Homo sapiens: one gene and its partners. The protein of the gene in region 1 purifies or fractionates together with the protein of each later gene. This does not show direct contact. Each region holds a gene or a part of one and is shown in the gene's direction. Other genes may lie near its edges. The genes, in order: ABHD18, MGAT5B and TOR1AIP2.

Region 1 (10,011 bases):
TTTTTTTTTTTTTTTTTTTGAGATGGAGCCTCACTCTGTCACCCAGGCTGGAGTGCAGTGGCGCAATCTCTGGCTCACTGCAACCTCCACCTCCCGGGCTCAAGTGATTCTCCTGCCTCAGCCTCCTGAGTAGCTGAGATTACAGGCGCGTGCCACCACGCCCAGCTAATTTTTGTATTTTTAGTAGAGACAGGGTTTTATCCTATTGGTCAGGCTGGTCTCTAACTCCTGACCTCATGATCTGCCCACCTTGGCCTCCCAAAGTATTGGGATTACAGGCGTGAGCCACTGTGCCCAGCTTAAATACTTTTTATAAGGAAATATACTTCTGTGTAAAATTAGCTTCTAAAAATGAAATTCCAGTTGGTCTTTATTTAAAACATGTATATTTATAAAAATGTATTTGTTTTATATTTTATTATATTCATAAATTATGTATTTTGTGAAAATAAGCAACATATTTGAGATTTCAGTAATACATGAGCCTAGTGTTTGGTTAAATTCTTTATTTATATTGCCTTTTTTAAAAGTTATGCTTTAAGACTGGGCGTGGTGGCTCACGCCTGTAATCCCAGCACTTTGGGAGGCTAAGGCAGGCAGATCACTTGAGCTCAGGAGTTCAAGACCAGTCTGGCCAACATGGTGAAACCCCGTCTCTGCTAAAAATACAAAAATTAGCCAGGCGTGGTGGCTCACGCCTGTAATTCCACCTACTCAGGAGACTGAGACAGGAGAATCGCTTGAACCCTGGAGGTGGAGGCAGCAGTGAGCCAAGATCCATGCCACTGCAACTCTAGCCTGGGCAACAGAGCAAGACTCCGTCTCAAAGAAAAATAAAAAGTTATGCTTTAAATTCTGTTATAATAATTTCAGTAAAGATTATGTGCTATAGAACAGGAACACTTTTTTTTGTTAAGTTTTAGGTGATTTGATATGTAATCCAATGTTAGCAGCTGTGTAATTCTATTTTTTTTTTCTCTTTTTGAGACAGGGTCTCATTCTGTTGCCCAGGCTGGAGTACAGTGGTGCAGTCTCAGCTCACTGCAGCCTCTGCCTCCCAGGTTCAAGCGATTTTCATGCCTCAGTTTTCCACGTAGCTGAGATCACAGGCATGCGCCACCATGCCCTGCTAATTTTTGTATTTTTAGTAAAGACAAGGTTTCACCATGTTGCCCAGGCTTGTCTTGAACTCCTGACCTCAAGCGATCCCCCTGCCTCAGCCTCCCAAAGTGCTGGGATTACAGGCGTAAGCCATCACGCCTGGCCCTAATTCCAATTTATTACATTGTTTTACTTAACTATCTGGTCCTTTAGAAGAGATGCATGAAGTCTGGCAGCCTGTTGTAAATTTGCATATATTAGCATGTAAATACATAAAATAATCATTTTCTATTTTGTTTTGTGAGGCTAGAAGGTCCAGCTTAAAAAATGTGTCCGACCTTTTTGTGATGGGAGGAGCTCTTGTTTTAGAATCTGCAGCTCTCTTGCACTGGCTAGAGAGGGAAGGTTACGGCCCTTTAGGAATGACTGGAATATCCATGGGAGGACACGTAAGCCTTTTTATTTCTGCTTACATTTAATTATGTTTATGTTTGTAAGATCTAGAGAACCTGGTTATTTTAAAAATTCACTTTAGGTATAGAATTAGTTTTAGTAAAAGTAGGAAGCAGAAACAGATTCCAAACTCTTACTCCAATTATGAAGTAATGATGTTAATTTTTTGTACGATTTATTGATTGTACTACTCCACAGTTGTATCTCAGATATTAGATTTAACAGAAATTAATTATAAAATTTAACTTTTCAAGTCTCAAGTATAAATGCCCAATTTTGCTGTTACATTGGTGAAGATAGCTGAATTGGAAAATACTTTCCATTTATCTGTCTCCCTAGTACCACTAACCTATTTTACTTTTTGTCTGCCTTTTAGAGTGTACTAAAATGGATTCCTAATTGCTTTCTCTGTCTCTAGTCTTTTCTCTTATTAATCTTTGTCTTAACCATTTCTCCTCCACACCCTAACTACAGTGATCTTTCTAAATCTAGTCTTTGTTCTGTCTTGTTCAAAACCTGCCAAAAGCTTGCGTGCACACTGGGCTCCAGCTGTGTCACGTGCTAGCATCTCTCTAGTGCTCCCTTATTCTCTTTCACCTAGGAGTAACAGCTTACCCTTCTGTTTCAGCTGTGACACCCAGCCTTACCTCCAGACTATACTTCAAACTCTGATTAGTAACTTTTTACTGTACTTTACTGACTTGTTTAGCAGTCTGTTTTCTCCATGAAGCATTTGAGATATTGAGGGCCAGGAATATGCTCTGGTTTATTACTTGGCACATATTAGTCACTCAGTACATTTTTAAAAAATTATTAGTATTTTGTTTGTGTGTGGGCTCAAGTGATCCACACAGTTTGGCCTCCCAAAGTGCTGGGATTATAGGTGTGGGCCACTGCACCTGGCCTAAAAAATAATAATACCCCAACCTAGGCAACATAGTAGTAAGACCCACCCTGTCTCTACAAAAAAAATTGTTTAAAAAATTAGCCAGGCATGGTGGCACATCTCTGTAGTTGTGGCTACATGGGAGGTTGAGGTGGGAGGATCACTTGAGCCCCAGAATTTGAGACTGCAGTGAGCTGTGATCATACCACTGCACTCCTGATTAGGTGACCCAGACAGAAGCGAGATTCTATCTCAAAGTAATAATTATTATTATATGAAGTTTCTGTATGCCTCTTGAATTAGAAAATTAAGCTCAAAAACTTACTCAAATTCAAAACTATGCTGGGCACGGTGGTTCACACCTGTAATCCCAGCACTTTGGGAGGCCGAGGCGGGCAGATCACCTGAGGTCAGGAGTTCAAGACCAGCCTGACCAACATGGTGAAACCCCGTCTCTACTAAAAATACAAAAACTAGCCGGGTGTGGTGGCACGTGCCTGTAATCCCAGCTACTCAGGAGGCTGAGGCAGGAGAATCGCCTGAACCCAGGAAGCGGAGGTTGCAGTGAGCTGAGATCGCACCACTGCACTCTAGCGTGAGCAACAGAGTGAGACTACATCTCAAAAAAAAAAAAAAAAAAAATTCAAAACAACTACCTGACAGTGAAACAAAAGATGGAAAAGGATTTATTTTCCTACCTAGTAGTGTTTCCATTGTTATCACCTAGGTCAGGTCCTTATAACTTTCACCTGGATTACTGCCTATTAACTGGTCTCCTACCTCAGTTCTCCCCTTCTCTATTCAATCCTGTAAACTACTATCATGTTACCTTCTTTGAATCACTTCTTTGACAATACTACTCCTTTGCTCAGACCTCTTTATTAATTCCCGATTATCTATAGAACAAAGGACCTCTAATCTGATCTTGATCAATCTTTCTAGCCCTACTTACCTCCCTCACTCCATTGGCCATGTGTGCCTATTGACCATCCCAACTGAAGTATATTGGCTGTTTCCCTATGAGACCCTGTGCATTCTCACAGTCTTGCCTTTGATCATACTGATTCTTTCTCTGGAAGACAAGACCCTATCTTTCATTCCTCTAGAAGACTCATCCATTTCATGAAGCCTGCCTTTCCCTTCTGATTCCTCCAGCCCAGAAGGGAAAGTAACTTTTTGAAAAGATAAAGTTTTCCCTTCTCCAAAAGGGAGAGTGATTTTACCTTCTCTAATCACACACATTACATTATTTTAGATCTATTATATAATCTGCTTTGTAGTTCACCAAATTCTTGGCATACTCAGTCAACCTCAATGGTCTGATGTTTTATAGTTGTGATTTTGCTCTATCTGGCAAGTCACTTAAGTAATGAGTGTGTTTACCCTGCTGCCCAGCATCTACATCTCAGCATCTTTGCTCCATATTTACACAGTAGAAAGTAGCTCTCAGCGAATGGTCTTGAGGTTAAAGTTTTGTATTACATTTTATTGCTATCTAAGGGGGAAATTAAATGTTGAATTTATGATTTGGGGAATTTAATGAGGTGGCTAGACATTCTCACGAATGTTTGCAGACTTTGTGTTTATCTGACCAACTATTTACTGCACGGAATGCTTATTAATATTAAATATTTTTATTTTAATGAATAGAAACTCTAAATAGACGCTCTCTATCTGTTATATTACAGATGGCTTCCTTAGCGGTATCCAACTGGCCTAAGCCCATGCCATTGATTCCATGCCTGTCTTGGTCCACAGCATCTGGGGTCTTCACTACGGTAATTTAATTGTAATTAATATTAGGTAGCTATATATAATTAGAGGTAATTGTTTTGGGGGGGTCCCCAAAACCACCCTCAGCTTTGGTGATTCAAAGAAAGAATTATAGGACTCAGGATATAGTCGTAATCATGATTAAGCCTTAACTACAGCAAAAGATACAACACAGTCAACAGAAGGAAAAAGCGCATGAGGTAGAGTCCAAAGGAAACCAAGAACAAGCTTCCAAGAGTCCTCTCCTAGTGGAGTGTTACAGTTCATGCTTAATTCTTCCAACAATAATTATTGACAATAAGTGCAAAGTGCTGTCCATCAGTGAAGCTCCCCTGAGCCTTGCAGTCCAGAGTTTTTATCAGGGGTTAGTGACTTAGATAACTTCTGCCTAGCATGCACCAAAAATTCAGAAGGAAAGCAGGTGTTCAGCAGAAACCGCATTGTTTATATAAGCAGTTTAGGTACAGTGACCCACTCTTATCATTTAGGAAAAGTTTTATATAAGTATAGAAAGCTGTTTACTGGTCAAGTTCCCAGACTCCAGTTAAGGGCCAACCTTACAAGCAGGCTAAAGATAGGAAGTCTTAGGCCAGGTGCGGTGGCTCACGCCTGTAATCCCAGCACTTTGGGAGGCTGAGGCTGGTGAACCACCTGAGGTCAGGAGTTCAAGACCAGCCTGGCCAACATGGTGAAACTCTGTCTCTACTAAAAATACAAAAATTAGCTGGGCGTGGTGGCACATGCCTGTAGTCTCAGCTACTTGGGAGGCGGAGGCAGGAGAATTGCTTGAACCCAGAAGGTGGAGGTTGCAGTGAGCCGAGATAGTGCCATTGCACTCCAGCCTGGGCAACAGAGTGAGACTTCGTCTGCAAAAAAAAAAAAAAAAGGTAGTCTCACACAGTAATAATAATAAAAGTATTGGGCAAATTGCCTTATGATGTGGTTTGATCTTAATTTAGCTTATTATTTCAGGGTGTGTTGAGTAAATCAATTAATTGGAGGGAGCTGGAAAAGCAATATTATACCCAGACAGTTTATGAAGAAGAAATTATTCACATGCTTGAATACTGTGGAGTAAGTATTTCACTTTCCACCCAACATTGGTGGTGGGGGGAGTTGATTGTATATTTAATGATTCAGGTTTTTAAAGAGAATAGCAAATTTTTAAAAACATAGCTGTACATACTATTTTTTACTTTAAAAGATTTTTCATTTTTGTCTGGGCATGGTGGGTCACACCTGTAACCCCAGCACCTTGGGATGCTGAAGTGGGTTGATCACTTGAGGTCAGGAGTTTGAGACTAGCCTGGCCAACCCCATCACTACTAAAAATACAAAAATTAGCCACGTGTGGTGGTAGGTGCCTGTAATCCCAGCTATTCAGGAGGCTGAGGCAGGAGAATCTCTTGAACTTAGGAGGCAGAGGTTGCAGTGAACCAAGATTGTGCCACTGCACTGCAGCCTGGGCGACAGAGTGAGACTCTGTCTTAAAAATAAATAAATAAAAATTCTTTTAAAATAAAACACAGATACAGAGAATCATGCAAAGCAAATATGTGGTTTACTACATTTATTAAAAGGCAAACACACTGTAACTAGTACCTAGGTCAAAAATAAAACTTGACCACCCAACCCAGAAACCCCTTCAAATGTGTCCTAATCACAAGGCCTTCCTCCCTGCATTATTAGTAATCGTTATCCTTATGTTTATAGTAATTACTCCTTCTGCCTTTAAAATAATTTTATTATCCAAATGTGTATCTGTAGACCCTATAGTTCTTTTATTTGAAGTACCTTTAATAAGTTGCCTTCCGATAGAAAACCAAACACCGCATGTTCTCACTCATAGGTGGGAATTGAACAATGAGAACACTTGGACACAGGGCGGGGAACATCACACACCGGGGCCTGTTGAGGGGTGGCGGGCTAGGGGAAGGATAGCATTAGGAGATATACCTAATATAAATGGCAAGTTGATAGGTGCAGCAAGCCAACATGGCACATGTATACCTATGTATCAAACCTGCACGTTGTGCACATGTACCCTGGAACTTAAAGTGTAATAATAAAAAATCAATCAATCAATCTGTAAAAAAGAAAAAAGATAACTTGCCTTCCATCCCTTTATTTTCCTTATAATTTATTTCATGAAGAATTTAGGTTATTTGACCTGTAGGGTTTCTCACAATCTAGATTTTTCTGATTGCATTCTCATGGTACAGTTCAGCATATTGCTCTACGTTGCCTGAAAATTGGCAGTTGGATCTAAAGGCTTGATTAAACTCATTGTTTTGATTTCTTTCACAAGGCTATATAGGAAACACATAATATCTGATTATCTCTTTTTTTATGATATAAGCCTCTACTGATGCTTAATGACTATATCAATTCATTGAAGGTTGCTGATATTCTATTATTTCTTTTTCATGTATTTGAATACTTTTATAGGGAGACACTTACCTCATATATTATTTAGTTACATGGTAGTTCAGTTTGTATAAGAAAGGCAGTTATGGTAAATGCTTGATTTTTTTTCTGTAATTTACCAGTTTTCAAGATGATGAATTGGTTTCCTACTGCTCTTCAAAAGTGACCGATCCTTTTCTTTTTTTTTTTTTTTTCTCTGTCTTGCTGTGTCGCCCAGGCTGGAGTGCAGTGGCACGATCTTAGCTCTCAGCTCACTGCAACCTCCGCATCCCAGATTCAAGCAATTCTCCTGCCTCAGCCTCCTGAGCAGCTGGGACTACAGGCACGCGCCACTATGCTTAGCTAATTTTTGTATTTTTAGTAGAGATGGGGTTTCACCATATTGGTCAGGCTGGTCTCAAACTCCTGACCTCCTGATACACCTGCCTCGGCCTCCCAGAGTGCTGGGATTACAGGCATGAGCCACCGCGCCCAGCAATCCTTTTCATGAATTTAAATTTTTTACTGTTTGAAAGATACTGAGACTCTTAAGAAACTTCAAAAAAAAGAAATCTTTCTACTATGAATGAGAACTTTTTATTTATAATTAAATCACTGTAAACTTTACTCTTGTAAAGTAGGTCTATCTCACGTAACTTCAAAAGGTAGTTGATTGCTTGCCTAAGAACTTTATTACAAAATAGCTTTATCGGGACCAGGCGTGGTGGCACATGCCTGTAATCACAGCAATTTGGAAGACTGAGGTAAGAGGATCACTTGAAGCCAGGAGTTTGAGACCAGCCTGGGAAATAAAGTGAGACTCTTGTCTCTACAAAAAAAAAAAAAAAAAAAAAAAAAAAAAAAGCTGGGCATGGTGGTGCATGCCTGTAGTCCTAGCTACTCAGGAGGCTGAGGTGGGCAGATCACTTGATCCCAGGAGTTCAAGGCTGTAGCAGTGAGCTATGATTGTGTCATTGCACTCCAGCCCAGGTGACAGAGCAAGACCATTTCTCTTAAAAAAAAAAAAAAGGCTGGGCGCAATGGCTCACCCTGTAATCCCAGCACTTTGGGAGGCCGAGGAGGGCAGATCACGAGGTCAGGAGATCGAGACCATATTGGCCAATACGGTGAAACCCCATCTCTACTAAAAATACAAAAAATTAGCCGGGCGTGGTGGCAGGCAGGCGCCTGCAGTCCCAGCTACTCGGGAGGCTGAGGCAGGAGAATGGCGTGAACCCAGAAGGCAGAGCTTGCAGTAAGCCAAGATCACGCCACTGCACGCCAGCCTGGGCAACAGAGCGAGACTCCGTCTCAAAAAAACAAAAAAAAGCTTTACCTGCTAGTTAGTTCCTATACATATAATCAGAAGAATACCTGTATTTGAAAGTTTATGAGAAACTTACATGTATGTTTTAAAGGAAGTTTATAAATTTTGGTCATCTGAAATTGCAATGTAGTTGTCTTAGTCAATTTTGTGTTGCTGTAACAGAATATCTGAGACTGGGAAATTTATAAGACCAGAGATATATGTGGCTCACAGTTCTGGAGGCTAGAAAGTCCAAGGTTGAGGGGCCCACATCTGGTGAGTGCCTTCTTGCTGCATTATTTCATGGCAGAAGGCATAAGGGCAAGAGAGAATGTGTGTGTGTGCAAAAGAGATAGAGGGAGGGAAGAGGCTGAACTCATTCTTTTATCAGGAATCCATTCCCGGTAACTAACCCACTCCCACAGTAAGGGCATTAGTCCATTTATGAGAGCAGAACCTTCATGGCCTAATTAAAGGTCCCACCTTTCAACACTATTACATTGGGGATTAAGTTTCCAACACATGAACTTTGGGGGACATATTTAAACCATAGCGGTAGTCTTATTTGGCACTTCTCATCTCACTTAGAACCAGTTCACAATAACGAATATTCAATAAATGTTAAGATGTTTTCCCTACTCTTTGTATTTTCCCAGTCAAAAAAAAAGTTCAATTTATTGATGTCCCACTCTGAGTAATTCGGGGACCCTTTGATCTTTACATTTCCATATGTTACTAAACTTCCTTCCTCTTATAGTGATTTGTTGTGGTAACCAGGTTGTTCGGTATTTTTGTTTTCCTTGCCTTCAACCAATTTTAATTTTTTTTTTTTTTGAGATGGAGTTTCACTCTTTTGCCCAGGTTGGAGTGCAGAGGCACAATCTTGGCTCGCCGCAGCCTCCGCCTCCTGAGTTCAAGCGATTCTCCTGCCTCAGCCTCCCGAGTAGCTGGGATTACAGGCATGTGCCACCACGCCCGGCTAATTTCGTATTTTTAGTATAGACGGGGTTTCTCCATGTTGGTCGGGCTGGTCTCGAACTCCTGGCCTGAGGTGATCCTCCCACCTCGGCCTTCCAAAGTGCTGGTATTACAGGCGTGAGCCACTGCGCCCGGCCAACCAATTTTAATTCTTTAACTTAAAAAAAAAATGTATGGTCATATAATTCAAGCATCAAAAAGTATAAATAGATACATATAGTGAAAAGATTCCTACCCCATCTGTGCTTAGGTCCAATCCCCATCAACAAATAACAACCTATATTGTTTAGTGTTTCAGGGAATTTTTGGTCCATGTGCAAACCAATAAAAATATGAACTTTTTTTATCTTTTTCTTTTTATTTTGTTGAGGTAGGGTCTGGCTCTGTCACCTTCTACCTCAGCCTCCTGAGTAGCTGGGATTATAGGTATGCACCACCACACCTGGCTAATTTTTGTATTTTTTGTAGAGATGGGATTTCACAATGTTGCCCAGGCTTGTTTCAAACTCCTGGGCTAAAGCAATCTGCCTGCCTCAGCCTCCCAGAGTGCTGGGATTACAGGTATGAGCCACTGTGCCCAGCCTCACTTCCCTTTTTTATGGACTATACAAAGTGTTTCCTTATTATTTTTTACTGCTATATAATAGTCTATTATGTGAATGGATGTACCATAATTAATCAGTACCCTGTTGATAGATGTTTATGTTGTTTCTCATCTTTTGCTATTAATAAACAGTGCTGCAGTGAGTAACTTTGTACATTCATGTTATATAAGTGTAAATTCCTAGAAATATGATTGCTGAGTCAAGGGTATAATAATGTAGTTAGATTTTGTCTAATTCTGGTTATGTCAGTTTACACCACCAGCAGGAATGTGTCTTTCTTCATAAGTTCTCAAATTCAGTGTGTTATCAAACTTTAGTTTTTATTTTTTGTCAACTGGCACTGGAAAATGGCGTAGTTTTAATTAACTTAAGCATGAGGGAAGTTGAGCAAGTTTTTATAAGTTTAAGAGCAGTTTGGCTGGGCACGACGGCTCACACATGTAATCCCAGCACTTTGGGAGGCCGAGGTGGGCAGATCATGAGGTCAGATTGAGACCATCCTG
Region 2 (10,279 bases), on another chromosome or scaffold:
CGGGGTTCCTCCCTCAACACGGTGAGGATTATGGGGATTACAATTCCAGATGAGATTTGGGTAGGGACAGAGAGTCAAACCGTATCACTGGCATATAGTAGATGCTCAATAAGTGGAATCTCCTGATCATGATAAAGTGTTCGCCTGTGTTTCCAGCACTGGGATGGGGCCTATGTGGAGGAGGAGGGCTGCCTGTCTGGTTGGTGCCTGCTTGGCTGGCCACACACACCCCAGACACAGTGGTTACCTTTCCTGCAGAACAGGGCAAGTACAATAGCTCTGCTCGCAGCTCCCACAAGCTGTGCGGTAGAATGGCCTTCTGTCATAAATAAAAATAAATCCTAGACGCTGCCTTTCAATCAGAGGATTAGTCTAAATGTTGTGAAACAGAAAGCATAAAATATGCATTGGAGAAGCAGCTCTCCCCACCTCGTGGCCTCTGCACTCGAGGTGGCTAGTGTGTGAGGGCCAGTTGTCCCCGCGCAGTGCCACTGTTGCTGATTTGTACGCGGTGTCAGTAAATGCTGTTATGACATTATTAATGCTGCACACTACGGCAAAGGACAATGGCCTATTGCCTCGTAATGTGCTGTGTGCTGCTGCAGTCGGAGCACATTAAATGGGGATTTCAAACATGGTAAATGGCTTGTTTCTCTTCTCCCTCTACACACCCCAGGCCCCGTCTATGAGCTCTAAAAACAACCTTGAAGCCTTCAGAAGGTAGGAGTGGCAGTCGAGCCTCTGATGCCCAGTGAGGCTCCAGCGGGACCAGTGAGGGGGTCCAGGGGTCCCTAGGAAGCAGCCCAGCCTTCCCACCCCCAGAGTGCACCTAGGACTGTTGACTTTCCTCGCTGGGGCAGGCAGGTGTCTGGGCAGCTTGGCCTGAGGCTTGAGGGTGGTGGGGTAGTTCAGGGAAGCTGGACTTGCCAGGTGGGTGGGCTGGTGGGCTCACTGCTCTGCCCTCCAGTGACACGCGCAGGGGGCCCAGATGGTAGGCCTTCCGGTGGATTTTATTGGTCTTGCACAATGTTCTAAAAATACTGAGCCTACATTTTAAAATTATGCGACTTCACAGGAGAAGCCCAGATTTCTGGCTTCTCTTGAAATAACTGGGCCCACAGTCACACAATGCAATGGTGACGTGTCCCCTTCGGGGGCTGCAGCCCTTGACGGTCTTTAGCCACACTGGTCATTTGAACTAGGTCCCCGTAGTGGGTTAAACAGTTTCTTCCCCAATCCATGTCTTCCCAGAACCTCAGACTCTGACCTTATTGGGAAATAGAGTCTTTGCAGATTTAACTAGTTAAGATGAGGTCCTGTAGGATTAGGGTGGGCCCTAAATCAATGAGTAGTGTCCTTACCAGAGGAGGGATTTTCAGGCACACAGAGATACGCCCAGAGAAGGCCAGATGGAGATAAGGCAGAGACTAGAGTGAGGTAGCTACAAGCCAAGGGCTGCCTGGGGCTACCAGGAGCTGGGAGAAAAGCCTGGGGTGGTTTATCTCTCAGAGCCTGGAAGAAATGGACCGTATCAACACCTTGATTTCAGACTTCTGGACTTCAGGAAGCTGAGGCAGGAGGATCGCTTGAGCCCAGGAGATCGAGGCCGCAGTGAGCTATGAGTGCACCACCGCACTCCAGCCTGTGTGACAGTGCGATGCCCTTTCTTATAAAATAACAAATAGATAAACAAGGACTGGCATCAGGTGTCCCTGTTTCCAAACCCCATCCCTTTTCACTGTTTCTTGAGGCTATCAACAGACCCACAACCAGCCAAATGCAGAGCAGGAGGCACATTCGCCCAGGTGCCCTAAATATAGCACTTCCAGCCCCTCCCCTTGAGCAGGGTGAATGTGAAGAAATAAATTCCAGTTGCCTTAAACCACGCAGGTTGTTGTGGTTTGTTGCGATTGCCTGGGAAACACCCCACTCCCCTTCCCTTGTTTTCTGGCCCACCCTGTCAGTATTTTGAGTTTGGACCTCTGAATGGCAGGACTTACCTCACTGCACCCTTCCCGAGTCCTCTGCCTGTTTGGACACAGGCCTCCACTGCCTGGCCAGGGAATTCTGCTGACTGTGGGCTTCTTCTGACCCCTCCAGCCAGGCCAGCAGGACCCAGGGGCAGGGGGAGGGGCTGGAAATGCTTTTTTTTATTATTGTTGTTGTTTTTTGAGACGGAGTCTTGCACCGTTGCCTGGGCTGGAGTGCAGTGGCACAATCTCGGCTCACTGCAACCTCTGCCTCCCAGGTTCAAGCGATTCTCCTGCCTCAGCCTCCTGAGTAGCTGGGATTATTGTATTAGTAGAGACGGGGTTTCACCATGTTGGTCAGGCTAGTCTCGAACTCCTGACCTCATGATCTGCCCACCTCGGCCTCCTAAAGTGCTGGGATTATAGGCGTGAGCCACCGCACCTGGCTTTTTTTTTTTTTTTTTTTTTTTTTGAGACGGAGTCTTGCACTGTGGTCCAGGCTAGAGTGCAGTGGTGTGATCTCAGCTCACTGCAGCCTCCATCTCCCAGGTTCAAGCGATTCTCCTGCCTCAGTCTCCTGAGTAGCTGGGATTACAGTCACCCGCCACCAGACCCAACTAATTTTTTGTATTTTTAGTAGAGACGGGGTTTCACTATGTTAGCCAGGCTGGTCTCGAATGCCTGACCTTGTGATCCACTCGCCTTGGCCTCCCAAAGTGGTGAGATTACAGGCATGAGCCACCGCGCCCTGCCAGGAACTGCTATATTTAGGGCACCCGGGTGAATGTGCATCCTGCTCTGCATTTGGCTGGTTGTGGGTCTGTTGATAGCTTCAGGAGAGAAACAGTGAAGAGGGATGGGGTTTGGAAATGGGTACACCTGATGTCAGTCCTTATTTATTTATTATTTTATAAGAGACAGGGCGTCGCACTGTCACACAGGCTGGAGTGCGGTGGTGCGCTCATAGCTTACTGCGGCCTCGATCTCCTGGGCTCAAGTGATCCTCCTGCCTCAGCTTCCTGCGTAGCTGGGACTACAGGTGCATGACACCACACCTGGATAAGTTTTAAAGTTTTTGGTAGAGATGGGGTCTCACTATGTTGCTCAGGCTGGTTGTCTCAAGCTCTTGGCTTAGGCATTCCTTCTGCCTTAGACTCCCAAAGTGCTGGGATTACGGGCGTGAGTCACGGCGCCTGGCCCACCGTCAGTCCTTGGCCGGGCCCTGCAGCAGGTGCCGCCGTTCCTACTCCCCTGTTCTCTGGCTTGCTTCCAGAGACTTTCCTTTCTCCTCAGGAGGCCACAAGTATTTGTCTAGAACAGTGCTTCCCCACCTTGCCTGTGTCGGCATAACCTGTGGCATCAATGCACCAGCGTGCCCAGGCTGCACCTCAGGTACTGGATCAGAATAAGGACAATTTTGCTAAATTCTGCAGGTGATTCTGCTGGAATCTGGGCTGAGAACCACCAGTCGATGAGGCAGGATCTTGGGATCTTGGTGTGGGTCCCCCAGAAACAGATGCTCAGAATAGGATTCTGCAAGTGGTTTATTTGGATGGTGACCCCAGGAACATTGACCGGGGAGTGGAATGAGACAGGAGGGAAGGGAGTGAACACAGGGGCATCACAGGGCTGGCTACACCACGGGTGACTGGAGCTCAAACTTGCTGGGAACCTGGGGAGCCACGGGGTAACACGCCGCGGAGTATCCCCCTTAGGAAGAGGGAGTGGGGGTGTCTATCCACTGCTTGAGGGCTGCTGCCAGGGTGTTGATCCTTTGTCCAGGGTCCTTTCTTCTTGCCCTTTTGTGTTCTAGCATATTCCCACAGCCATTAAAAAAAAGTCCTCAGGCAGAGAGTTGAAGGTGTTCTCAGTCATCTGCCTCTTAGCTTGCAGAGGTGACTGCAGTGGGAACCAGGACTGGGCACAAACAGCATCTGTTCCTGACGGACAGTAACAACCATCAGAACCACCATGCTTGAAAGGCTCAGGAGGTCCTGGCAACGGGCTACTTACCTGCATTAAGCGGCTCAATCCTCAGAACAGCTCTATGAAGCAGGTTATAAGGAGCCCCACTTATAGTTGAGGAAACTGAGGCATGAAGAGGTTATACCCAAGACTGCATGATGTGGGATTCACAGTTTTTCTCCTAATGCCTACAGCACAGTGGAGAGCAAGCAGGACTGTTTACACTGAACTTTACTGCAGACAAGAGGCCAAAAAAAGGGGACAGACTTCAAAAGGGACAGGCAGCTGGACAATCTGGCTTGCAAAATGCCACTGGCTGGCCCAGCATAGTGGCTCATGCCTGTAATACCAGCACTTTGGGAGGCCGAGGCAAGCGGATCACTTGAGGTCAGGAGTTTGAGAGCAGCCTGGCCAACATGGCGAAACCTGTCTCTACTAAAAATACAAAAATTTTGCATTTTTATAGGCATTTATTACAGGTATCGTGGCACGTGCCTGTAATCCCAGCTACTCAAGAGGCTGAGGCAGAAGAATCTCTTGAACCCAAAAGGCGGAGTTTGCAGTGAGCCGAGATTGCGCCACTGTACTCCAGCCTGGGAAACAGAGCGAGACTCCATCTCAAAAAAAAAAAAAAAAAAAAAAAAAAGTCACTGGCTGTCCTCTGCTTGCTTCCCTCCCTGGCCCAAGCCAGCCGTCAAATGGCAGAGAGGCTTTCCCGCTCCAACTTCAAAGTCCAGATCTAAGGGTGTGTGGCCCAGGGGAAGAGGGGAGTACCTTCCCCTACCTTCTAAATTCTGGCTTCTGTGGAGGGTAGGCCACCTCCCCAGATGACCCACACCAGAGGTGGCCATGCCTTCTAGGGAACCCCATCTCCACCACTGAGGAAGAGGCTTCCCCTTTGGCCTAAAATGGCAACCAGATATAAATGCCACCCCCTAAGCCTACTCAATCAGAAGAACCCCCAATCAGAAGAGAGACACCTAATCAGAAGGACCATTTCATTCCTTAGTGTAGATATGGCTTATTGCCAGGATTTGTGGCAGATGTAGGCACCCAGGCATGAGATGTGATTTACAGGCCTGGCAGAGACCTCTGCCCTCCAACATCTCCTTAGCCAGCCTGCCACGATGCCCAAATTTCCGGCCACCATTCATCACTCTTCTGCACAAAGGCACGGTCAGCATGTCCTTGTTCAATGCAAATTTGTTACCTAGCCTGTGTAACACATTATATCTGCTAACACCAATTTATCACCCATTTTCACATTAGCAGAGAGCAAGGCAGTGAGATAATGGAACTCAGCACCGGTAAATTTTGATGAAGAAGGAGCAGCAAAGCAGAGAGCGTGAGTCATGGCCAGTGAGTAATGGCCCAGGAAGGGGGCCGGGAGGTGGGCAGGGCAGGCAGCAAGGGGCCTGGGTATGGGGGATTGGAGGGGACCAGGCCCAGCTGGAGGAAAATAAAGTCTCCTCCTCGCATAAGCCAGGCTGCAGCATCGTGGCCTGAGCTGGGAAGACCCTCAGAGTCATTTGACACATGACTGAGGCTTTGGGCACTTCCCAGGGTGGGGTGGTCAGATATGACCTCGGGAAGTGCTTTTGAAGCCGGAGAGCTTTCTTCAGGCTGGCTCTGCGAGCTCCCAGGAGTCTCTGTCTCTGCAACTGCAAACACATCTCCAGAGCCAGGAAGTACGAGGAGGGGGAGGGGAGGACGCCTAGATGCTAAGAGACGACATGAGATCCTACATGCTTTAGGGTTGCAAGGGACCTTGGTGAGCTTCTGGTCACTATCATTTCATAATGGAGACTCTGAGACGTGCACACTTGATCGCCCACTGGCTAGTGGAGGATCTGGGGCTACAACTCAGTACGCCCCTGCGCCTGGCTCTGTGAGCGGGCCCCAGCACCACAGGCCGAGTTTATACTCAGATCAGTAAGCAAAGAGGAGCCACGGGAGTTTCTGACCAGGGAGGGGCAGAAGATAGGCATGTGTTGCCAAGCGAAATCGTGGGAAGCGGCTGATGAGGAAGCCCACGGAGGCACCTGGCAGAAGAGAAGGGTCTCCGCTGGGTGCGCATCTCTTCTGTGCTCTGCGGGAGCCAAAGCAGCTTTCGGCCCTCGGGGCTGGTGGCGCCCTGGGAAGCTGCTTGGCTCAGGGGAAGGAGCAGGGACCCCCGCCCGCCCGTCCTCGAAGCTGGTCCTCGGCGTCCCAGCCCCGCACGGCCCCGGGCAGGGCGCACAGCGGGGCTGCGGCCACGAGGTGGCGCCGGCGCGCCTTGGAAGCGCAGCTGCAGCTCCCGGGCCGCCCCAGCGCCGCTCGGCCGCCTCCTCCGAGGAACAATGCGGCGCCTCCGGGCGTAGCGTCGCGCGGGGCCGGACGCCGGACACCAGAGCGCGGGCGGCGGAGCCAGCGGGCGAGAGAGCGCGCGGCGGGCGCGGGTTGCCCTCGTCGAGAGCCATGGGCGCGGCGCGGCGCGGGGCTGAGGATCGGCGCGGCCCGGAGGCGCTGGGGACCGGGGCGCGGGCCCGGGGCCGCCTTTAGCCGGCACCGAGGGCGCGGGGCCGGGGATGAGGGCGCCCGCCGCGGGGAGCCCGTCTGCGCGCCGCGGCACCTTCCCGCCCAGCGAGCGAGCCCGAGCAGGCAGACGCGCGGCCGGCGGTCTGGGGGCGCGCCGCCTCCCGGTCCCCAAAATGTGAAGCGGGGAGGGCGGAGACGCAGAGACGGCCCGGCCGGGCGCCCTCGCCGCCCTCCGGCAGCCGCGCCGCTCCCTCCGCTGCACGCCCAGGCCTGAGCAGCGAGGCCACCGGGCCGCGCGCTCCCAGCTTCGCTCGGACGCGGCTTCGGCCCGCAGAGGGTTCGTGGCCCGGACGCGGCGAGAGCTGGGCCCAGGACGGTGCGTCCGGCCTCGCCCGCGGCTGCTCGCACCAACAAGTTTGAACAATGATCACCGTCAACCCCGATGGGAAGATAATGGTCAGAAGATGCCTGGTCACCCTGAGACCCTTTCGGTAAAGTTCCCTCCTGGTTGGTTTTTTCCCCAGGGGGGCGCCGGGTGGAGGTGGGCGAGGTCGGTTCCTGCGAACGTTCAAGTCCTGGTGGCAGAGGGGGCGGTTCACACTTCAACCCCTGGTGATGACCAGTGGGGCTGGGCTGGGGGAACGGATGGCGTTGGGGTTCGGGGTGCGGATGGGGAGGGTTGTGTTATTCGGGGACCTGTCCCGAGTTGGGCAGGGTTGGAGAGGACTCGGGGTGCAGAGGTAAGAATGGGGGCAGAAAACCCCCAGGTCGTGGTCCTGGGCCCAGAAAGTTGCCCCAGCCTGCGCGCCCCTTCCCAGCCCCTCAGGGTCCTTCCTCACCCCGCGGACGGTCCCATCCGGGTGGCAAAGTTAGTGTGCGGCGCCTTGGAGCTCCCCCTCCGGTCCCTCCCGTCCCGCCCGTCTGCCCCTAGGTCGGCTACCCCCCAACCCCTCCGCCTGTGCCACCCTCTCCCCAGCCTTTGGTGGCACTGCTCTCCTCCCCGCGGGGCTCGGGCCTGGCTCCGACGAGAGGGTCCCGAGATTAGAGCGAGGACTCGCTCATCCCAGGATTCGCCCCCGATCGCAGGCGTCGGAGAGGCGGGGGCAGGGGCGGCGCTGCAGGGCTACGGGGCGGCTGGAGCCGAGGCTGCGGCGGAGCGTGGTGGGCGGGCGGTGGCGAAGGCGACACGCTTCGGGCGGCCAACACCTGGGGGCCCAGGCCAGGCAGGGCTGGGGCCGCGCGGGACTCACTGGACCCAGCCAGGGGCCCCCAGGGCCCAGCGGTGCCGGGGCAGCCCCCTCTCCTCCCAGGCATCCGCGGAACCGGCCCGCAGCGGGGTGGGGAGGGGGCGCTGCCCAGTGGACGCCCGGCGGGGCCCGAGTGTCACCCCGTGGGTAGCTGGGCAGCGAGGAAGCTGGGGGAGTGACCGCCCCGGCGCGGGGGCCGGACTCGGGACGTGGCCACAGGTGGGCTCCGGGCGCGGGAAGGAGCCCGAGAAGGCGGAGCTTGCAGGGGCCCTGAACTCTTGCCCTCCAGGTCTCGGCCCAGCCCCACTGTGGTCCCCCTGCCGGCTCCAGACGGGGATGGGGGCGGGGAGACGGTGGCTCACCTGGAGCCCGCCTCCCAGCACACCGGGCCTGTCTGCTGGGCCGAGGAGGCAACCCCAGGGGACGGCAGGGGTCAGGCTGGACCTCTGCGGTCCGGGGGTCCGGGAGGCCCGGAGAGCTGGTGCAGGCCGTGGGTGGTGATGGGGGCGTCGGGAGCCCATGGGAAGCAGGGCGGGAAGCAGGCGTCTCTGGAAAGGGCCTTGCTCCTCCAGGGAAGGCCTTGAATCCCTGGCCTGACTGGGAACGCTGGAGGGTCCTCGCCCCTTCCGACCCCATCCCTGTCCCGCCCTCCGGGCCGCTGGGTGTTTCCTGGCGCGATTGGAAGCAGCCGCGAGACCCCAGCACCACGGACAGTGCTCGCGACCCAGGGCTGCTTCCCTGTCTGGTCCTGCCCTGGTTTTCTTTCAGGCCCTTATCTGAAGGCAGGATTGGGGGTGGAGGTGCATGGGTCCCCAAAGTTGTGTAACTTCACCCCAGGGTCTCCCTGGGCTGCCCGGAGACCCGCAGCCATCAGTGAGTCCCTTCAGTTGAGGTGGGGGGCAGGCTGCAATCATAGCACCCCAGCTTATTCATCCTCAAAGGCAGGCTGGGGTCCTGTTCCCTGTGGTTTTCCCAGGGCTGCTGGCAGGGTCTTTATTCCATAGGTGCCCCTGGAATGTTGCTTGAGTGGATACATGGATGGCTGAAGCCATTTTAACTTGAATCCACTCCAAATGGCCCCCAGCTGCCTTGGGGGACATTGAACCCCAGGATGGGGTTCTGGCAGAGGGAGATGCAGATGAGGTGTGTTAGGGGGCTTCAGGTTCTGGGCTGAAGGGGGTAGACACCTTTCTCATAGCAGGGTTGTTGGATCCTGGCAGGCAGCCCAGGTCCCCAGCTCTAAATACAACTCCTTCACTCCCCTGGCCTCTTCTCCAGGGACTAGAGACATGAGTGGGGGAAGTCCGTCCTTGTCCTCAGACTGGGAGGACAAATAGCTGATTTCCCCTGGGATCTCCCTGAGCATGGGACAGCACCTCTCCTGTGCCATGGCCGTGGCTGTTGTCTCCAGAGCCACCTGACTTCCTCTGAGGGACCCCAAGATCTGAGCCCCACCCCCAGGCTTGGTGGAATTCCGTGAGGCGTCCCTCTGCGCTAAGGAAAGTGTCCCTTGCGCGGTCTTGCCTACTGAATCATGTCTCCTGTCCTTCCTGCTGGGGGTGTGGTCTTCGAGTCTCTCCTTGGAGCTCCCAAGCCCCTCTCTGCTTTGGGGTTCTCCTCTTCTCTGCCCAAATCTCTAACAGCTTCCTTTAAATATGGGCTGGGAATTTTGTTGTGCTTTTTATTTCCTTCTGCAATTATATGTTTTCTTTAATGGACCAAATTTTAATTAAATACTGCTCTGCCAGTTTCAAATAATGAAGATTAAAATGCATAAAGCAAGTCTTGCATAAAGACACAAACAAGCATGGAACTTGAGGGCGGGGAGTGGAGGGGCAAGGCCCGGAGGTCTCTGGCATGACGTGGGGCTCTCTCCAGGGAGCCTGACTCCACACAAGATGGGGTTCCTCACCCTGATCTGGGGTTGGTGGGAGGGCGCCCCTCTCAGCTCTACCAGTTCATCAAGTCCTCTGATAGGTTCAAGTTCCCAGAAGAGCCCCAAGGCTGTGCTGGTGAGCTCAGCTTGCCTGTTTGGGGCCTAGGATTGATGAGGGAAGCAGCAGGACCCTGGGTCTGGACTTGAGGAAGGAAGGGTTCTGTGCCTTGTTCCCTGCTGTCCCCCTGGGGTTACCCCAGAGCCTGGCTCCTGCTGGATAATCAATAACTACATGTTGAAGGCAGGAACAGGAGTCCTGTTCTGACCAGCCCTCCCTCCCACCCAGTGTGACAGCACACACACCTATATGACACCCCTTGCACAGGTATGAGGACACCCTGGCCAGTCCGTGGTGCAGGCTGATGACCCTGGGCGTGCCTGCCTAGGGGAGATGTGTGTTGGGGGGAGCCTGGGCATGGGCCGTGTGGCTCTGCCCTGGACATCTTACCATCTAGTGGTGGAAGTGGAGGGGGGTGTTCAAACAAGCTCATGACTGCTGCAGCAAGGCCTCTGCACACTGCACCAAGGCTGGCCTGAGTGATTGATGGGGTCTGGCTGGCCTCAGGCCCTGCTGTGTCCATCACTGGTTCTCAAACTTTAGCATGCAGTGGAATCTTCAGGAGACTTTGCTAAAACAGCTTGCT
Region 3 (10,011 bases), on another chromosome or scaffold:
CTCACTGCAACCTCTGCCTCCCGGGTTCAAACGATTCTCTTGCCTCAGCCTCCTGAGTAGCTGGGATTACAGGCATGCGCCACCATGCCCGGCTAATTTTTGTATTTTTAGTAGAGATGGGGTTTCAGCATGTTGGTCAGGCTGGTCTCGAACTCCTGACCCTTGGGTGATCTGCCCGCCTCAGCCTCCCAAAGTGCAGGGATTACAGGCATGAGCCACCGTGCCCACCCTATTTTTAAGTTTAAAGAAGTTTTGATATCTGGTAAAGATTGCCCCCCTTCTTTAGAATTATGCTGACTCTTCTTGATCCTTTGCTGCTCTTTGTGAATTTTAGGACCCACTTTTCCATTTCACTAGAAACCAACAATAATCAAAAAACTTGAGATTTTGTTTCAAATTGCATTAAATTTGTAGATTAATTTGGAGAAAATTGGCATCAATGGTTTTGAGTCTTATTTGTCTATGCATGATATTTTTTTTTCTGTTTACTTATCTCTTTTTTATAGACTTCAATAAAGGTCTATATTTTTCTCTCTAAAGTTGTGTTTTAAAGAAACAGCTTTATTGAGGTATAATTTACATACCATAAAATTCACCACTGTCTAAAGATCTTACATATCTCTTGTTGGATTTATTACTAGGTATCTTTTAGTTTTTATTCTAGGTTCCTTAAGGTTATTGTGAGTAGCATCATTCCTTTTGAAAATTTTTGTTATTGGTACATAGGAAACTTTTAGCCTATTTTCTTGGTTTTGGCTGGCAGGAAAAATTTTTTTAACAAAACTTAAAAAGGACTGGGGACTTTTTATTTTCTGTCATGAGCTAGGATAGGAGAGAAAACTTCATTCCAACATATGATGGCTTGAAAGCCCAATCCCAGGAGCTTGAAGAAGATAAAAGAGCTGACAAGGAACCCTCTGAACACTTCGCTAAGTGTTCACAGTGGCAGAAAGAAAATCTGTCCCTAACTCTTCTCTTCCCTTCCAATTTATCTATGGCATCACTCTTTATTTATACATTCATTTATTTTTTCATAAGCTTTTAAGTTAAAATATGGAGTTCTTACTATACACTAGGCACCGTGTAGGCATTGGGGATCAAAGTTTTTAATGTGTAAATTTAAATTTTACAAAAGAGTACTGAGAAAAACATAAAGACGGCCAGTTGGCTAGCCTTCCAGCTAGGCTGTCAAAAAACTATAACACTTCACACAGGTTTTTCTTATATATTTTTGTATTTAAGCCTCATAGATATCATTATTCTCATTTTCATAGGGAATAAATATTAAGTAACTTTATTGATCAATTTGTTTTTGACAAAAAAAAGAACTATAAAATATGACTGTTTTTATTGCTTATAAAGTGCCTTTGATTTTGATTCCTTTTGTGTAAACCTTAATAATTTTCTTTGTCTGTCTTTGAGCATTGCATAAAAAGGCATTGTATAAAGGAATATCTGTCTCCATATTTTACAAAAGAATACTTCGAGAAAACCACTTCAAAGTCAGTCCAAATGTGTAGTGGTACACCTCAAAGCAGCCATCTCAGTTTGTGGGAACCTCCTGTGCATTGTTACTTTTTAATATAAGTGAAAGCTCCTGATAGGCAGACTATGAGAAAATTATCTGGGACAGAAATTGAAGACATCCAGGAAATCTGCAGTGATTGTTTCAGCAATGACTTAAATTTCTACTCTTAGATTTATTTTTTATTTTAATTCAAGCTAGTCTGTTGAAGATTCTGGTCACTTGATCTTACTTTTTATACTCTTTCAACTATGCTGGAATATATTAGATTATGAAATTCATGAAAGATTAATAATCTGGAGCTTTTTTCAGTAGTCTAGGATTTGGAATATGATTCTCATGAAAGGAAATTTTCTTCACGAAAAAAGTTTCACAGAGGAAATAGTACTCAAGCTACACATATTTAATAAATAAAGCTGATACTTGCATTTCTCCCTTGTATGGATAAAAAGTCATTTAATTTTTTTTCATTTTGTTTTAGTCACTGTATATATGCCTTATTTCCTGGGTCCATGGGAAGCATGAGTCTGTTGGGACTTGGGACAAGAAGAAAACAAGACATCTTCACAAGGAAAACCAAGTACTAAAAAAAGTATCCTCCCAACTCTGAAGAGATAGAACACAAACATGGCCGACAGTGGACTTAGGGAACCTCAAGAGGGTAAGACTGATTTGTCTGGCACTGAGGTTGCTGCTGTAGGAAACCAGGGGTGTGCAGAGAGAGAAAATCTCTGATGACTAAAATCTGAGGTTTTGAAGTAAAAAAGCTAATTCAGTGGGTTCATTTGTTTTGATTATACTTATTCTTTCAAATTTACTGAATTTTACTATAATGCGAGACCCTAATTATAATATAAGGAAGATAAATGTTTTAGAGACTCCAATAGTAAGGACTTATAGTAATGGAAAAATACAATGCTTCTTTAAAAAATGATGGTAGACAAATCTTTAGAGTTATATATATCCTGTGATGTGCTATATTTAGAAGGTATCTTTCTTCTTCCTCTTCTTCTCCTTTTTTTTTTTTTTATGTTACCCAGGCTGGAGTGCAGTGGCGTGATCTCAGCTCACTGCAACCTCCGCCTCCCGGGCTCGAGTGATTCTCATGCTTCAGCCTCCAGAATAGCTGAGATTACAGGCGCCTGCCACCACACCCAGTGAATTTTTGTATTTTTAGTAGAGACGGGGTTTCACCATGTTGCCAGGCTGGTCTTGAACTCCTGACCTCAGGTGATTCACCTGCCTTGGCCTCCCAAAGTGCTGGGATTACATGCATGAGCCACCACATCTGGCCATTCTTACTTTTATTAAAGAAACAAAGTCTTTTGGAATTTCCCACGTGCTGGGTTTTGCTGATTATATTCTTGAGGCATAATTTAATGTATTCCTGTATCCCTATATTTCTTGGAAACTGGTTGCTCTAGAAACTTACCAGATTTAAGTTTAGTTGTTTGGCAAAAATACTTCCCAAGTGGTCTAGAGTACTTCTTACTGCATTGTATTAGAAAGTAAATGATATCTGTTTGGGTTTCCCTGTTTTCATGATGTGAAGATTGGTCGCTGGGTTCAGCAGTTGTCAGTCTGGCTCATCCACTATAAAAGTCCCTATCAGCCTTTTGCATAAGGTTTTGCTACCATTGATGAGCATTGCCTTTCATTAGGGAAGAGGATATATTTAATATAGCCAAAAGTTTGTTCTGTCATATAATTTGTTTTATATTAGTGTCATTTTATATTTATTAACATGATAAGATTTTTTTTGTTGTTGTTTTAATTGCCTTTAGTGGGAGCCAAGAGAAATAATGTTTAGGAAGTGTCTTGTAAACCATGAAAATCTATGTAAATATTATTATTAAACAGGGACCTTGTTAAAATATAAATTTATGGGGAATTTTTTCCAATAAAAATTATAAACTTTTATCTCAATAGACTCTCAAAAGGATTTGGAAAATGATCCATCAGTAAATTCTCAGGCGCAGGAGACCACAATCATAGCAAGTAATGCTGAAGAAGCTGAGATCCTACACTCTGCCTGTGGTCTTAGCAAAGACCACCAAGAGGTAGAGACAGAAGGTCCAGAAAGTGCAGATACAGGTGATAAATCAGAAAGTCCAGATGAAGCAAATGTGGGGAAACATCCAAAGGATAAAACAGAAGATGAGAACAAGCAGAGTTTTCTGGATGGCGGAAAAGGGCATCACCTCCCTTCAGAAAATCTGGGTAAAGAACCCTTGGATCCAGATCCCAGCCATTCTCCAAGTGACAAGGTAGGAAGAGCAGATGCACACTTAGGGAGCAGCTCTGTGGCCCTCCCTAAGGAAGCGAGTGACGGAACTGGAGCATCTCAGGAACCACCTACTACAGACTCCCAGGAGGCCCAGAGTCCTGGTCATTCCAGTGCAGGGCAAGAGGGTGAGGATACACTGAGGAGGCGACTGCTGGCCCCAGGTAAGAGAACCCCCTGAACTACTCTCCTGTTTTGTACTGCTCTGTTAACTGAGAACACAGCAGAAGTCAGAGGCCTTCTTTCCAGAGAACTTTTGTCATCTTTCATAGGAGTAAGGCCTTTGGGCCTTGCCCAAGCTCACACCAAGCCATGACTGAGTTGATTTTAGAATGAGGTTTCTCATCTAGGCTAGCTCATTCCACTATATTAAGTTGCTTCCTACACATAAACTGCATTTCTAAGCATGTTTTTATTAACTGTTTATATTAATGTGATATGACAAAAAGGGGCATGACTTTTAAAAAATTCGCTTCTGGTTTTTTATTTCTTATGAGAATATTTCGACTTACAATTTTTAAAATCTTTTACTTTTTGGGAAACTAAATGTTACATAAATCAAGAGATGGGTATATTTAAAAATGAGCATTAATGGGACAGTATCCTTAACTCAGTCATGTTTCAGTTTTATAGGACTTTGAGTAAGACAGTTAGTTTCTCTATACGTGGTTTTTTCTGCCTATATGTTAAGAGGAACAAGCATGTCTTCCCTTATGAAGCTAAGCGTTGCAGTGTGCTAAATCCTTAACTGGAACTGGAGGTGTGAATTCTAGTTGTGGCCCTACCACTTGCTGACTTGGGAGACCTTGGGAAAATCTTCCCTTCCTGGTGCTTCAATTTCCTGTTTGTAAAATGAAGAAGTTGGACAAGATGATATCCAAACATTCTTCTAACTTTCACCTTCTGTGATTGTCTGTGTGGGTTTGTATTTTATAAGCACTCTGAAGAGCTCAGTCTGAAATGCCCATTTGCCAGTGCAAAAGAATATAAAATATAAGATGTTCTGTTCATCAGGGACTTCAGCAAGGGCTAGTAATTCATGTTTCACTGCAAATCAATGACTAATCTCAAATATATGTTTTATTTATTAATCATTAGAATAATCTGTAACTTCAGTGAAGGCAAGGACTGTGTCCTCTCATTCATTGTGTATCTCTGGCACCTGGCACATAGAAACACCTTTATGAATTTTGTCAAATGAATGAATGTGATCTGTAAGGACCATGACCTGCGTCAGAATTTCACTGTTATAAACTAGGTGCAATTACTTACACCTCTAGTCCCAGTTACTTGGGAAGCTGAGTTGGGAGGATTGCTTGAGCCCAGGAGTTCAAGCCTGCAGTGTGCTATGATCACCCCTGTGAATAGCCACTGCATTCTAGCTAGCCTGGGCAATCTAGTGAGATCCCATCTCTTAAAAAAAAATTCACTGTTAGGCAGGTTCACTGTGAGTAGAAAAAATATTGTTTAAAAAAATCTAGTTTAGGCCAAGGGTGGTGGCTCACTCCTGTGATCCTAGCACTTTGGGAGGCCAAGGCTGGTGGATCACTTGAGGCCAGGAAGACCAGCCTGGGCAACATGGCAAAAACCCATCTCTACAGAAAACACAAAAACAGCTGCATGCACCTATAGTCCTCAGGAGGCTGAGGTGGGAGGATTGCTTGAGCCCAGGAGGTTGAAGCTGTGGTGAGCCGAAATTTCAGCACTACACTCCAGCCTTGTTGACAGAGTGAGACCCTGTCTTTAAAAAAAAAAATGCAGTTTATGTATGGAAAGCAATTTAATATAGTTGAATGAGGTTATCTATACTCTAAGAGATGAGAAACTTTGTTTTCATCTCAACTTAGCTATATCTCTTTTTTTTTGTTTTTTTGAGATGGAGTCTCACTCTTTTGCCCAGGCCGGACTGCAGTGGCGCTGTCTCGGCTCACTGCAAGCTCCGCCTCCCGGATTCACGCCATTCTCCTGCCTCAGCCTCCCGAGTAGCTGGGACTACAGGCACCCGCCACCGTGCCCAACTAATTTTTTTTTTTTGTATTTTTAGTAGAGACGGGATTTCACCGTATTAGCCAGGATGGTCTCGATCTCCTGACCTTGTGATCCGCCCGCCTCGGCCTCCCAAAGTGCTGGGATTACAGGCGTGAGCCACTGCGCCCAGCCAGCTACATCTCTTTATGTGACCTTGGGCAAGATCTTTAATATCCCTGGACCTTTTTTCATGATAGGTTAAGTAATGGGGCCGGAGTAGGTGTCCATTATAGATCCTTTCAGTTCTTAGATTCTATGATATGATATTTTAAGAACCTACTCTTTGGGGTGATAGGAACAATCCTTTATAAGTGAAGATGATCCTACTCATCTATGCTAATAGAAGTACCTGGCTGGGGTTAAGCACAAATTTAGATTCTAGTGTGATTTAGCTTAGAGTGCTAAAAATTGTTGCCCTTCTTTTCACCCACATATTTTAAGCTTGGCATGCCCTCCCTACATCTGGATTTTTACATATTTCGTGAATTTTCTTCACCTTATATTCCTTGCTTTGTATATCTCCTTCACTAAGAGTTTCAAATTTGCTTCTGTAAGCTATTTTGCAACTGTACACTAATCTCTCCTATCTTAGAACTTAGTGCCTCTGTTATTTTTATATTCGGGGTCTTGAGGAACCATGTGAAACTCGAACACTGGAATTAGAGCACAATTACCCTGTGAAGTTGAATCTTGTGTACAGCCAACATTTCTTAAATCCCTTCTTGATTTTATACATTTTGCTGAATTACATTTTAGGTAAGTTTGGCCGCACTATTTAAATGTCTTTGTCTTTGATATAAGAGGCAGTAAGGAATTGTGAATATAGCAACATTATCCTTGAATGAATTTCACAGTATTTCATTTTATCCTTCTAAGTAGAATAAAAGTAATAGTCTTAAAGAAAAGACAGGAAAAATGTTAACTTTGGTTTTTTTTTTTTTTTTTTCTGAGATGGAGTCTTGCTCTGTCCCCCAGGCTGGAGTGCAGTGGCACGATGTCGGCTCACTGCAACCTCCACCTCCCAGGTTCAAGCGATTCTCCTGCCTCAGCCTCCCACGTAGCTGGGATTACAGGCGCCCGCCATCATGCCCGATAATTTTTGTATTTTTAGTAGAGACAGGGTTTCACCTTGTTGGCCATGCTGGTCTCAAACTCCTGACCCCAAGTGAGCCACCTGTTTCAGCCTCCCAAAGTGCTGGGATTACAGGCATGAGCCACCGTACCTGGCCAAGGTATAGAAAGCCTTTTAGTCAAATCATTCTTTGGTTTGGTGAGAGATATAAAGGTATACATACTGTCATTAGTGTACTGCCTAAAAATAATATTGATTCTTTTCCTCTCCAGAGGCTGGAAGTCATCCACAACAAACACAAAAATTGGAAGAAATTAAAGAGAATGCACAGGACACCATGAGACAGATTAATAAAAAGGGTTTTTGGAGCTATGGTGAGAACAAACCTGGTTTTACTGCAGTGTTGATTCACTTTCAGAAATCCTCAGTGAAAATGCCTAGAAAACTAGCAGATTTAAACAGTTTTAACATTGTGTTTATATATACTTATTTAATGATTGGTAGTGAGACATAGTAAAATAGTACACTAGAGTTTTAGGGATTTTTCCCTTACGGGTGCTGGCTGATATTTTGCTGTGCTTAACAAAATGGAATTTCTCACAATAGGAAAGGCTTTTCCTAAACAAGAAACAAAAACTGCCTTTCTAATTAGAGAATATTAATTTTTCAAGTGCACTTTAAAGTTATGACTCCTAAAAAAATGGTCGGCTATAGGTAGTAGGTGCATTGAGAAGATGAAAAAAAATCTTGATCACTCATGTCTAAATTACATCATTAGTTATAATAACAAATACATAGACTCAGCTTTTACCTTTTATTTTTAAAAATTTTTTACCGAGTACTTAACTCTTCCACGTAGCTTTTATCTTTTAACAGATATATCTTCAAATAATTAAATCTGAGAAGAGATTAGAGAAAAGGTACTTCTGGTGGATTGAAAGTTTAAACAATTTATGCAAAAGAAACTTATTGCTCCTAGTAAAACCTGCTGGTATCTCTGCCTCATTTCAGTTTACCACAGGCTTTGTTTCTGGCTCGTGTTCTCTGTAATTTTCTATTCCTTTTTCATTCTTTTGACAGGCCCTGTGATTCTTGTCGTCCTGGTTGTGGCTGTTGTGGCAAGTTCTGTGAATAGCTACTATTCCTCTCCAGCCCAGCAAGTGCCCAAAAATCCAGCTTTGGAGGCCTTTTTGGCCCAGTTTAGCCAATTGGAAGATAAATTTCCAGGCCAGAGTTCCTTCCTGTGGCAGAGAGGACGGAAGTTTCTCCAGAAGCACCTCAATGCTTCCAACCCCACTGAGCCAGCCACCATCATATTTACAGCAGCTCGGGAGGGAAGAGAGACCCTGAAGTGCCTGAGCCACCATGTTGCAGATGCCTACACCTCTTCCCAGAAAGTCTCTCCCATTCAGATTGATGGGGCTGGAAGGACCTGGCAGGACAGTGACACGGTCAAGCTGTTGGTTGACCTGGAGCTGAGCTATGGGTTTGAGAATGGCCAGAAGGCTGCTGTGGTACACCACTTCGAATCCTTCCCTGCCGGCTCCACTTTGATCTTCTATAAGTATTGTGATCATGAGAATGCTGCCTTTAAAGATGTGGCCCTGGTCCTGACTGTTCTGCTAGAGGAGGAAACATTAGAAGCAAGTGTAGGCCCAAGGGAAACGGAAGAAAAAGTGAGAGACTTACTCTGGGCCAAGTTTACCAACTCTGACACTCCCACCTCCTTCAACCACATGGACTCAGACAAATTGAGTGGGCTGTGGAGCCGAATTTCACACCTGGTACTGCCAGTCCAGCCAGTGAGTAGCATAGAAGAACAGGGGTGCCTTTTCTAAAGCTAAGCACAGAGTTGGTTACAGAAGGTATATGTTTATGAAAAAGTTTGTTTAAAGACCTTCCATTTATATGGAAGGAGGTTGATAAAATAGCTTGAGGAAATAGCCTGAAAAACAAAGATGAGCTTATTTTAGAAACAAGTTTTTATTTTTTATTCCTTGTAAAATCTTTCTAATCTAAGCCTTGACAAAGCTAAAAATTAACCTGACTTTTTTTCTTTGGACCAAATCAGGTTTGAAATATCGATGATATATATGAGAATTTTTTTTAAATTCTAAAATATAGCAACATTGCACAGGAAGATACTCTTACTTCTTAGAGTAACTACAGAGTGATTTTTTTTTTTTCTTGAGTGAGACTCTGAAGAACCTTTTCGATAATGTTTGGACTTGGACTAAAGCAATTAGAATTATGAAGCAATGATAACCTTTAGAAAATTTTTCTATCACATGTTGAATATTTTCAAACCTTACTTTAATAATCTAAAGTTACGGGATTATATCTTATATTAATTTTGCAGTTTTGAGTAGTATGATAAAAGAAATAAGAATTCAAACCATTAAGTACCTACCTAAATACTACATGTAAGGCACTGTGCTTTTATTTCATTCAGCTGAGGTATAAGCAGCTGTACTCAAATGTTCTTAAAAATGAGAACCAGTGGGGAAATTGTTTATAATCATTGGAAATGAAGAAATTCCAATTGGCTATATCTTTACTTCAGCTTTTCTTGAACAATTTACAGCATTGATTTTCAAACTGTGTCTACTGGCACCCTTCCCCTTTGTATCAGAGCAGTTCTGCTTTTAACTGTTTTATATGTTGGGGTTCTCTATGAGATTTCATTGGAACAAAGAGTTTCACTGATATTCGAGTTTGAAAACCATTGATTAAGTGAAAAAACATCTTAGAAGATAGGAAATATGTTTAAAAAATGAATGTATTAAATCTTATGAGTAGGAAGATGAAATACAGGTTTATTGTATAGATACATTATTTATGAAGGATAAAGATCTATACATGAACAGCAGAATGTATAAGCTAGCATTTACTAGCATGTCTCTGATGCTTTTGTTCATTTCTGTTAATCGTCATTTCTGTCCCCTCTGCATGGAATTTTATACTTGTCTAGGGTAAGAGTTTGTAGACTCTTTCAGCAGAACAGATTTTAATAACCAATTTATTTGTTTTATTTTAAAAATTTATTTTTGAATAACCAATTTAATAGTAAATTTTATATGAACATTTGGCATAACTTTACCA

Evidence for each region.
Region 2: the proteins of ABHD18 (region 1) and MGAT5B purify together in Homo sapiens (affinity purification with mass spectrometry; 2 studies listed by BioGRID and IntAct, with this or other methods). This does not show direct contact.
Region 3: the proteins of ABHD18 (region 1) and TOR1AIP2 purify together in Homo sapiens (affinity purification with mass spectrometry; 2 studies listed by BioGRID and IntAct, with this or other methods). This does not show direct contact.

The regions. Positions count from the first base shown.
Region 1 is NC_000004.12:128,015,952-128,025,962, forward strand, and holds part of ABHD18 (protein ABHD18), read left to right. Parts: intron 1-1,411; coding exon 1,412-1,550; intron 1,551-4,128; coding exon 4,129-4,218; intron 4,219-5,185; coding exon 5,186-5,287; intron 5,288-10,011.
Region 2 is NC_000017.11:76,862,155-76,872,433, forward strand, and holds the start of MGAT5B (alpha-1,6-mannosylglycoprotein 6-beta-N-acetylglucosaminyltransferase B), read left to right. Parts: upstream 1-6,249; 5' UTR 6,250-6,875; coding exon 6,876-6,943; intron 6,944-10,279. UniProt on the Homo sapiens protein: Glycosyltransferase that acts on alpha-linked mannose of N-glycans and O-mannosyl glycans.
Region 3 is NC_000001.11:179,844,807-179,854,817, reverse strand, and holds part of TOR1AIP2 (torsin-1A-interacting protein 2), read left to right. Parts: intron 1-2,006; 5' UTR 2,007-2,152; coding exon 2,153-2,186; intron 2,187-3,454; coding exon 3,455-3,973; intron 3,974-5,943; exon of another isoform or gene 5,944-6,593; intron 6,594-7,181; coding exon 7,182-7,283; intron 7,284-7,989; coding exon 7,990-8,747; 3' UTR 8,748-10,011. UniProt on the Homo sapiens protein: Required for endoplasmic reticulum integrity. Regulates the distribution of TOR1A between the endoplasmic reticulum and the nuclear envelope as well as induces TOR1A, TOR1B and TOR3A ATPase activity.